3 linked regions of the Homo sapiens genome follow. The protein of the gene in region 2 purifies or fractionates together with the protein of the main gene of each other region. This does not show direct contact. Each region holds a gene or a part of one and is shown on either strand. Other genes may lie near its edges.

Region 1 (3,662 bases), on a different chromosome or scaffold from region 2:
TTTTTAAAATATATTTTATATACTACTGAGAAATAAAAATGCTGCCAGTTATGACATATCATCAGTGATAAGATAGATCCTAATTTCAGAAATGTAAAAAAGGACATTTGGAATTGACAAACTATAACAGTCTATTAACAAATGCTCATTATACAACTGAAGAATTTGAGCTGATTAAACCAGATTCTGTCAAGTTACTTATCGAAAATCTAAAACTATATTCCCAGTAAGAGTACATTTCAATTCAATATATGATATCATAAAAATTGGTTATAACATCATAAATAGAACAAAATGCAAATAGCTTAGAACACCATAAAATTGGACTCTTTTAGTATACAGAAGTATTAGTATCTATCCATGAACACAGTCCTTCTCCAAACGTTCTTTTTTTTTTTTTTTTTTTTTTTTTCAACAGAATCTTGCTCTGCTGCCCAGGCCAGAGTGTAGTGTCACGATCTCGGTTCACTACAACCTCTGCCTCCTGGGTTCAAGCAATTGTCCTTCCTCAGCCTCCCAAGTAGCTAGGATTACAGGTGGGTACGCCACCATGCCCAGCTAATTTTTGTACTTTTAGTAGAGACGGGGTTTCACCATGTTGGCCAGGCTGGTCTCGAACTCCTGACCTCAAGTGATCCGCCCACCCGGGCCTCCAGAAGTGCTAGGATTACTGGCATGAGCCACTGTGCCTGGCCCCTTCTCCAAATGTTCTACTAGGCAAGCCCATAAAGTACTGCATTTGTTTTATTTTTATTAAACATATCAGAAGCAATATAATCACACAAACTTAACAGTTAAGACAACACAGATAGCCCACTATGGTGATTAACAGTCATTACTTCATAGTCACTTAAATTTTTCATATTAATGATTAATTAGATATTCCTTTTTTTTAAAAAAATATAGACACTCCCTGACTTACAATGGTTCAACTTAGGATTTTTTGACTTTATGATGGTGCAAAAGCAGTGCATATTCAATAGAAATCATATTTTAAGCACCTATAAAAACATTCTGTTTTCAACTTTCAGCACTGCAGTCAATAAATTACGTGAGATATTCAACAGTTTATTTTTATTTTAATTAATTAATTTTTTTTAAATTTTGAGACAGAGTCTTGCTCTTTTGCCCAGGCTGGAGTGCAGTGGCACAGTCTCGGCTCACTGCAACCTCTGCCTCCCGGGTTCAAGTGATTCTCCTGCCTCAGCCTCAAGTAGCTGGGATTACAGGTGCCTGCCACCATGCCTGGCTAATTTTCTGTATTTTTTTTAGTGAAGATGGCGTTTCACCACGTGACCAGGCTGGTCTCGAACTCCTGACCTTGTGATTTGCCCGCCTTGGCCTCCCAAAGTACTGGGATTACAGGCGTGAGCCACCGTGCCCGGTTTTATTATAAAGGAGGCTATGTGTTAGATCTGACTCTGCCCAACTGTAGGCCAATGTAAGTATTCTGAGCATGCTGAGGGTAGGAGAGGCTAAGCTATGATGTTTGGTAGGTTAGGTGTATTAAATGCATTTTTTTGACTTACAAAATTTCAACTTATGATGGGTTTATAAGTATGTAACCCCATTGTAGGTCAAGGAGAATCTGTGTATTTAAATTAAAGGAACAAAACACTTTTAGAGCTGGAAGAGACCTTAAGATTACTAGTTCTTTTCCTTTACATAGAGGGTAAACCAAATCTAAGGAAAAGCCACAAGGCAGAAAATTTAAATTCTGAAATTATAAAGCCTCAGACTGAGGATTTTTTTAAATCCCAGAAATAAGGGGTTGAATAAAGAAGATACAGGGAAAAAATGTTCAATACTACATAAATACTGTAACCTAACACTATTTTTCTCTATAAATGTTCTTTAAATGAATACCACTATTAGAAATATGTAAAAACTCACAGATGCAGAGTGATTCCCATGTCTCTTAGCTCCTTCACAGATAGCAGAGGAGAGATTATATCTTGGCCAAATCTGTCATAAATGAGTACCTATTAAAAAAAACCATGTGTCATCATTATCAGTGAACAACCAATAGTGAACCTATATTAAGACAATGTTGAAGTAAATTTTATTTTAATACATCATATATACTGAATTGTTATCCTTGCCTCAATTTAACATTTTCCATCATTATCAGTGAACAACCAATAGTGAACCTATATTAAGACAATGTTGAAGTAAATTTTAATACATCATATATACTGAATTGTTATCCTTGCCTCAATTTAATATTTTCCATCATTATTTACCCAAATGTCCATCCAGGCAGTAATACGTTCTTAAAGCATTACTACTCAGGCTAAAATAAATAATTATATCAATTTCTTCTTATAAAATTCTTTTTTCTAGGTTTTAAAAAAATAGAGACTATAAAATCCTTAAGCTATCATAAACTTTGAACTTAAAGCCAATTCACGTTCATACCCTTATTTTTTTTCCAGTTCACATATATCTTTTCTAAAAACAGAGATGTAAAAATTAGCCATTTTCAAAACTAATATATAACAAGTTCCAGGACCACAATAAAAAATTTAGTATTTTAAGCATCTCAGGTTAAAAAGATACTCATTAAAAAAAATTAAGTCCCTGGCTGTGGCACAGTGGCTCACGCCTGTAATCTCAGCACTTTTGGAGGCCGAGGTGGGCGGATCACTAGGTCAAGAGATAGAGACCATCCTGGCCAACATGGTGAAACCCTTTCTCTACTAAAAATACAAAAATTAGCTGGGTGTGGTGGCACGTGCCTGTAATCCCAGCTACTCTGAAGGCTGAGGAAGGAGAATCACTTGAACTTGGGAGGCGGAGGCTGCAGTGAGCTGAGATTGCGCCACTACATTCCAGCCTGGCGACAAAGCGAGATTCCATCTCAAAAAAAAAAAAAAAAAAATTAAGTCCCTAAAGAGTATTTGATAGACTTAGTCTATCAAATACACTTCCTCACATTCTCAAAGTATTAAAACAGACAGCTTTGAGGTGTGGTAAGAACTCCAAATGGGCTTTTTAACTCAAAATTAGTTTCACGGTTAAGACAAATAAAAGAGATCCTCAACTGGTAAGCATTTTTCACAACTACCTCAATAATTATTTATGGAGTAAGAAATTGTTAATGAGAGAATGAAACATGTTGTTATGAAAACACATTTTCTTAAATGCCAGGATTTCCTTTAAAGAGGCTAAAAATCTTTCTGCTCTAGTTATAAAAGGTTCACGTTGCATCTTTCAAAAATCTTCCCTCTTTTAATCTCAATACATGTGTATTATTAATTTTAATGATATAAAAAGTGATGGGTAGGAAAAGTATCTGACAAAAATTTGTACCCAAGAAATTCTCAAACTATTTCAACCAAAAGCTCAATATTGGTCTTAGAAACAAGCAAGTATAGTTTATGCAAGAGGCAATAGGAAGATGCCCACAAAGGAACAAGAAGGAGAAAATTAGGGAATACTCTGGAGCTTAAACTATGAAATCAATACAGACAACTTTAACTACTTTTAGAGTTAACCCAAAGGACTTATAAAGACTCAAGAGAGTTTTCAAAACACCCTAAATTCTAAACATGTTGATTTGTTCTTAATTTTTAGCAAGAGAGAAATATAAAGAGACTGTTAACCAGTAAGTTTAAACCCAATCAACTGTATTATAACATCTGAAGAAAGAGAGTCTGCAT
Region 2 (2,810 bases):
TTTAAAAAATGTACAATCAGATATATCAATCTGTTCCTTTATGGTTCTTTGATTTTATGTTATGCTCAGTAAGATCTTCTCTAAGGTTATAAAAATGTTTGTTTCCTCCTGGTATATTTATGATTTTACATTTTTAGGCCTAAATTTTTTAACTGTCTGGATTTTATCTTGATGTGTTTTTTTTTTGGAGACGGAGTCTCGCTCTGTCACGCAGACTGGAGTGTAGTGGCGCGATTTCGGCTCACTGCAACATCCACCACCCTGGTTCAAGCGATTCTCCTGCCTCAGCCTCCCGCGAGCTGGGATTACAGGGGTGCGCCACCATGCCTGGCTAATTTTTGTATTTTTAGTAGAGATGGGGTTTCACCATGTTGGACAGACTGTTCTCGAACTCCTGACCTCAAGCAATCTGCCTGCCTCAATCTCCCTAAGTGCTGGGATTACAGGTGTGAGCCACCATGCCCAGCCAATGCATTTTTTAAAGAGACAACTTTTTAATTTATTCAAAATGTCTAGCTGAATGTTCTAATACCTTTTACTGAATAACTATTCCCCCTTGACTTTGCTACTTTTTATTACATACTGAATTTTTATATTTTCTTGGGTTTTATCCTGAACTCTATCCTATTCCATTGGTTTCTATTCCTATACCATTATCACATTGTTTTAATTACTATTGCTCAACAATATGCTTTATTACTATTATTATTATTTTTGAGACAGAGTCTAGCTCTGTTGCCCAGTCTGGAGTGCGGTGGCATGATGTTGGCTCACTGCAACCTCCACCTCCCGGGTTCAAGCAATTCTCCTACCTCAGCCTCCTGAGTAGCTGGGACTACAGGTGTGTGCCACCATGCCCAGCTAATTTTTGTATTTTTAGTAGAGACAGGGTTTCACCATGTTGGCCAGGATGGTCTCGATCTCTTGACCTCATGATCCGCCTGCCTCAGCCTCCCAAAGTGTTGGGATTACAGGCATGTGCCACCGCGCCTGGCCTATTATTTATTTATTTTTTTTGAGACGGAGTTTTGCTCTTGTTGCCCAGGCTGGAGTGCAGTGGTGTGATCTCAGCTCACTGCAACCTCTGCCTCCTGGGTCAAGCAGTTCTCCTGCCTCAGCCTCCTGAGTAGCTGGGATTACATGTGACTGCCACCACACCCAGCTAATTTTTTGTATTTTTAGTAAAGATGAGGTTTCACTATGTTGGCCAGGCTGGTCTCAAATTCCTGACCTCAGGTGATCCACCTGCCTCAGCCTCCCAAAGTGCTGGGATTACAGGCGTGAGCCACTGTGCCCAGCCAACAATATGCTTTATTATCTGATAGAGCTAGTCTCTACTTATTACTCTTCTATTTCAGAACCTTCCTAGCTATTCTTCCATGCTTATTCTCCCTAAGGCATTTTGGTATCATTTTGTTAAAAGTCCTACTTACCATTTCACTTTCTGCATCTGCTCTAAGGTTTCTGGAAGAGTCATTCCCAAACTTTCAGGGAAAAAAAGGGTGAGGATTCCAATCAGGACAGTCAGACTACCCATGACGATGTAGGGCAGCATTCTGTTGTAAGCACCTGTAAAGCCCGGGACATAAGAACATCAATCAGATAGGAGGACTCTCTGGGCACTCTTGAGCATCATTTTGTGAAGTTGGTGAACAGTATAAGAGAATGGATTTAAATCTGAACATTTTCAGAGAAAAAAAAGTAAGCAAAATATCAGTTTCTTTTTGGCAGATGACATTGTGCATGTCTATAATCCTTTTGCATTATCATAAGGCTTTTCATTCTTTCCTGTCAACTGGTATCCTCTAAGCTACTACTCAGTCATGTGTGACAGATGTTCCTTTGGTAGAGTTCTTTGCCTACCAGAGTTCTCCTCTTAAGGTGGAGGTAATTGGAAATGGGGGATGGGAGGACATCAAGGAGAAGGAGGTTAACCAGGATGTTTCAGGGATAGGTTTTGGCTATGATAGGTCTGGCATGACTCTGCTTTTGCCCAAACTAGTAGGCTGCAGTGGAAAGTTAGGTCCACAGGGCTATGAGACTCAAAAAAAAAAAAAAAAAAAAAAAAAACAACTAAGTATTATGTTCACTTCAGATTAAATCAGTAAATTATAAGTATCAGGCACATTCTGTAAAGGCACTGTGTGCCTGGATTTGGCTTCTTTTTGGAGCACTTACATGTCTTGGGTTAATATGTAATCTCTTTGTGAAGCTTTACTCACACAGGAGAAAAACAGATCCTCATCTTGCTTTGCCCCTGTATACATACAGAGCTTACAGAGGAACAGCACACCCATGGATTTCATTTGACCCAAAACATAAGGAAAATATTGTTATTGCAGCTTCTCTGAGGCCTCTGTGTCACTAACAGGAGTAGCTGTGTGGAGTAGGAGACTCTTGGACTCCCTGTCTTATGTACCAGTGTCTGACCACTGGACCATCTGAGCATAGTTTGAAATAGTTTGAAAGTACAGGGAAGGACAAAGGGAAAAATAACACCACTCTGTATAATCTGCTATCTCAGGTGTGGCACAGGGCAACTGTGCAGAATATGTTTGTTAGGAAAATGTTTCTCTTTCTCTGTAAGGGTTTGGATTATACCTTTCCTGAGAATTCATACATGTTTTCAGGTGTGTGTGTGTGTGTGTGTGTGTGTGTACGTGTGTACCAGTAGGTAACCAATTGCCCAATTGATGAGGTGTGTCTGCATTTCTCACCAGTAGAGTCCTTAATGAGGACCAGGCATGGGGTGTCAGATCCTACATCAGATTGAACATGCCGCTGAAACACCTCTGTAGTTTCATTTCAGA
Region 3 (3,662 bases), on a different chromosome or scaffold from region 2:
GCCGACCCCAGCCCAGAGCCCACTCGACACTAAGGAATCACACAGGCACAGCTGCTCCTCTCCCAAGAACTCAGCTATTGGTCAGAAAAAACCTCCTAGCCTCACTACCTTGAGGCCGTGCCCAGAGGTGGCAGAAGGCGCTGTGCCTCCTCAGGGGTCACGGCTCCTGTGCCCCCTTCCTCACCCAAGCCCGACAAGCTACTTTCAGAAATGAACCTACAGTAAAAATCAAGAGTCTAAGCCACCCACCCTGTCCCCATCCCTGCCTCCAGCCTGGCCCCCAGATTCACATCTATGAGATAGAGGTTGAGGGGTTGGAGCCCAAGACAGGGTTATGGGAGGGCTCCCCAACCCGGCCAGGACCCCTTGGCCTCACTGGAACGCACAGACGGCACCCAGCAGGTAGGCATGTTCTCAGGGGTGGCCAGCAAGGGCTCTCTCAGGGTACAGCTGGGAGAAGCGGCCGAGGGCCCAGATGGGGAAGATGTTCCTGTAGCTCGTGTAGGAGATGGCACAGGACTTGTTGAAGACCCCAGCAATGTTTTCCTAAAAGAACACAGAGAAATAAACACAAAGGCTTCACCAGTCAGCTGAGGGCTAGTCCCTGAACTGGAGCCCTGGCTGTTGGCTTGGCTGGCTTGTGGGTGAGTCAGCCTGGAAAGGGCTAATTAAGCAAGAGCATAGGAAAGCAAGTAGTCCATCCCGCATCAGTCATGGCACCATCAGCCCAGCTCAGACTCCCCGCCCTGCAGCAAACCCTAAGCCAGGGTCACCAGCCCCTCACAACCACATCAGCTTCCACCAACTCAGCCTCATCCCAGGGGAGGGCGGTTGGCCTCACATGACCTCATGACACCCACACCACAGGGACTTCTGGCTCAGTGAGGGGCCACTAGGTCATCTGGAGTGGGAGGGTCTGTCCTGCAGCAAAAAGGCTTCCCGCCCACTGGCTTCTCCCATCCAGCTCCTCCCCCACCCAGAGCATCACTTGAAACAACAGCAAGATCTGGACTTTAGGACCCGACCACCTGCCACAGACCTGCCACCAACTGTGGCATTCACTGGCAGAGGTGACGCCTCCCAAGTGTCCAAAGTACCCCAAAAAGGACACAGAGCAGGGGGACGTGGAAACAGCCATGCACGCTGGAGGTCAGTGCTGGGCCTTGTGCGCTCAGGTCCCTGGCGGCATACCTGCGGCCAGTCGCCATTGGGGAGCTGTTTCTCAAGTAGACACCGGACTCCTCTCTCCTGGGCCTCGATGTCAGGATGCCTGGTGGAAGAGAAGGCTGAAACACACCCAGCATGCATGCCCCCACAGCATCATCCTCACCCTCACACAGCCGAGCATAAGGGCAAACCCTGGAATGCTGCAGTGAGAATGGATGGGTCTAAACTGACGCCCACAGGCCCCGCCAGGTGCAGCCAGCGCCTCGGGCTCTTGCCACACCTTCTTCCTAGGCTCCCTGAGAAGCGGAGCCACAGCAATGACAGGCTGGGGACACAGGCCTCCTCAGGCCTGCCCTGGTGTTCCCCCCTGAAGAGGACGCCAAGCCTTGTTCCCAACTGGCCCACTGGTCCTCATGGGCCTCTGGAGACCCACAGGAGCTCACACTTGCTTGCTGGCCAGGATAAGACACCAAGAAGGATCCAGGGCTCAGCGGGCCCAGCTCAACTGTGGGTCCCTGACTGTCCTGCCCTCAGGGGTCCCCCAGACCCTGCTGCTCCTGCTCAAGCAGACCTGCCCTAGCTTTTAGGGTTTTAGGAAGATTCCCCAAATGGCCACAAACCTAATAGGGCAGCACAGACGGGATGTTGCGGGTGCATCTGTATGTATGTGTGCACAGGTGCCTGTGCATGTGTACATGTGTGCATAGACCTGTATGTACATCTGTCTCCATGTACGTATGTCTGTGTGGCACAGATGCGATACTGCGGGTGCATCTGCATATGTGTGCACAGGTGCCTGTGCATGTGTACATGTGTGCATAGACCTGTGTGTGCATCTGTCTCCATGTACGTATGTCTGTGTGTGGCACAGATGGGATACTGCGGGTGCATCTGCATGTGTGTACACAGGTGCCTGTGCATGTGTACATGTGTGCATAGACCTGTGTGTACATCTGTCTCCATGTACGTATGTCTGTGTGTGGCACAGATGGGATACTGCGGGTGCATCTGCATATGTGTGCACAGGTGCCTGTGCATGTGTACATGTGTGCATAGACCTGTATGTGCATCTGTCTCCATGTACGTATGTCTGTGTATGGCACAGATGGGATACTGCGGGTGCATCTGCATGTGTGTACACAGGTGCCTGTGCATGTGTACATGTGTGCATAGACCTGTATGTGCATCTGTCTCCATGTACGTATGTCTGTGTGTGGCACAGATGGGATACTGTGGGTGCATCTGCATGTGTGTACACAGGTGCCTGTGCATGCATACGTGTGTGCATAGACCTGTGTGTGCATCTGTCTTCATGTACCTATGTCTGTGTGTGGCACAGATGGGATGCTGTGGGTGTATCTGCATGTGTGTACATAGGTGCCTGTGCATGCGTATGTGTGTGCACAGACCTGTGTGTGCATGTGTCTCCATGTACCTACGTCTGTGTGTGTCACAGATGGCATGCTGTGGGTGTATCTGCATGTGTGTACACACGTGCCTGTGCATGCGTATGTATGTGTGTGCACAGACATGTGTGTGCATCTGTCTCCATGTACCTACGTCTGTGTGTGTCACAGATGGTATGCTGTGGGTGTATCTGCGTGTGTGTACACAGGTGCCTGTGCATGCGTATGTATGTGTGTGCACAGACCTGTGTGTGCATCTGTCTCCATGTACCTACGTCTGTGTGTGGCACAGATGGGATCCTGTGGGTGCATCTGTACGTGTGTGTACACAGGTGCCTGTGCATGCGTATGTGTGTGCATAGACCTGTGTGTGCATCTGTCTCCATGTACCTATGTCTGTGTGTGGCACAGATGGGATGCTGTGGGTGTATCTGCATGTGTGTACACAGGTGCCTGTGCATGCGTATGTATGTGTGTGCACAGACCTGTGTGTGCATCTGTCTCCATGTACCTACGTCTGTGTGTGGCACAGATGGGATCCTGTGGGTGCATCTGTACGTGTGTGTACACAGGTGCCTGTGCATGCATACGTGTGTGCACAGACCTGTGTGTGCATCTGTCTCCATGTACCTATGTCAGTGTGTGGCACAGATGGGATGCTGTGGGTGCATCTGTATGTGTGTGGACACAGGTGCCTGTGTGGGCATGCGTACGTGTGTGCATAGGCCTGTGTGTGCATCTGTCTCCATGTACATCTGTGTGTGCACATCAGTGTGTACACTGATGCCTGCCTGCATGCGTCTGCGTGTGTGTGCACCTGGCACATATGTGGCTCAGCACCAGCTGTGAACACAGTAGGGCCACAGAGAGCAGCTGCTGTGACCGTCATCACTACCACACCAGGAAGCAGCATCCTCATCGCAGCCCACCTCGCTGTTTCCATGGGTCCCTGATGTGCTTGCTCTTCCACTGACATGGCTAATGGTGGGTGGTTCACTTCTAAGAGGCGAGCCTCTCTGCAGGGCCCCACTTGGTCAGAGCAGCCCACGTTCTTGCCCCAGGAACCAGGCATGTGGCTCTTGTAGGTGT

What was found.
Region 1: the proteins of SLC22A4 (region 2) and SCFD1 purify together in Homo sapiens (affinity purification with mass spectrometry; one large-scale study listed by BioGRID and IntAct). This does not show direct contact.
Region 3: the proteins of SLC22A4 (region 2) and LSS purify together in Homo sapiens (affinity purification with mass spectrometry; one large-scale study listed by BioGRID and IntAct). This does not show direct contact.

Annotation. Positions count from the first base shown.
Region 1 is NC_000014.9:30,628,797-30,632,458, reverse strand, and holds part of SCFD1 (sec1 family domain-containing protein 1), read right to left. Parts: intron 1,983-3,662; coding exon 1,894-1,982; intron 1-1,893. UniProt on the Homo sapiens protein: Plays a role in SNARE-pin assembly and Golgi-to-ER retrograde transport via its interaction with COG4. Involved in vesicular transport between the endoplasmic reticulum and the Golgi.
Region 2 is NC_000005.10:132,339,324-132,342,133, reverse strand, and holds part of SLC22A4 (solute carrier family 22 member 4), read right to left. Parts: intron 1,570-2,810; coding exon 1,434-1,569; intron 1-1,433.
Region 3 is NC_000021.9:46,190,690-46,194,351, forward strand, and holds part of LSS (lanosterol synthase), read right to left. Parts: intron 3,471-3,662; exon of another isoform or gene 3,401-3,470; intron 1,271-3,400; coding exon 1,192-1,270; intron 547-1,191; coding exon 415-546; 3' UTR 1-414. UniProt on the Homo sapiens protein: Key enzyme in the cholesterol biosynthesis pathway. Catalyzes the cyclization of (S)-2,3 oxidosqualene to lanosterol, a reaction that forms the sterol nucleus.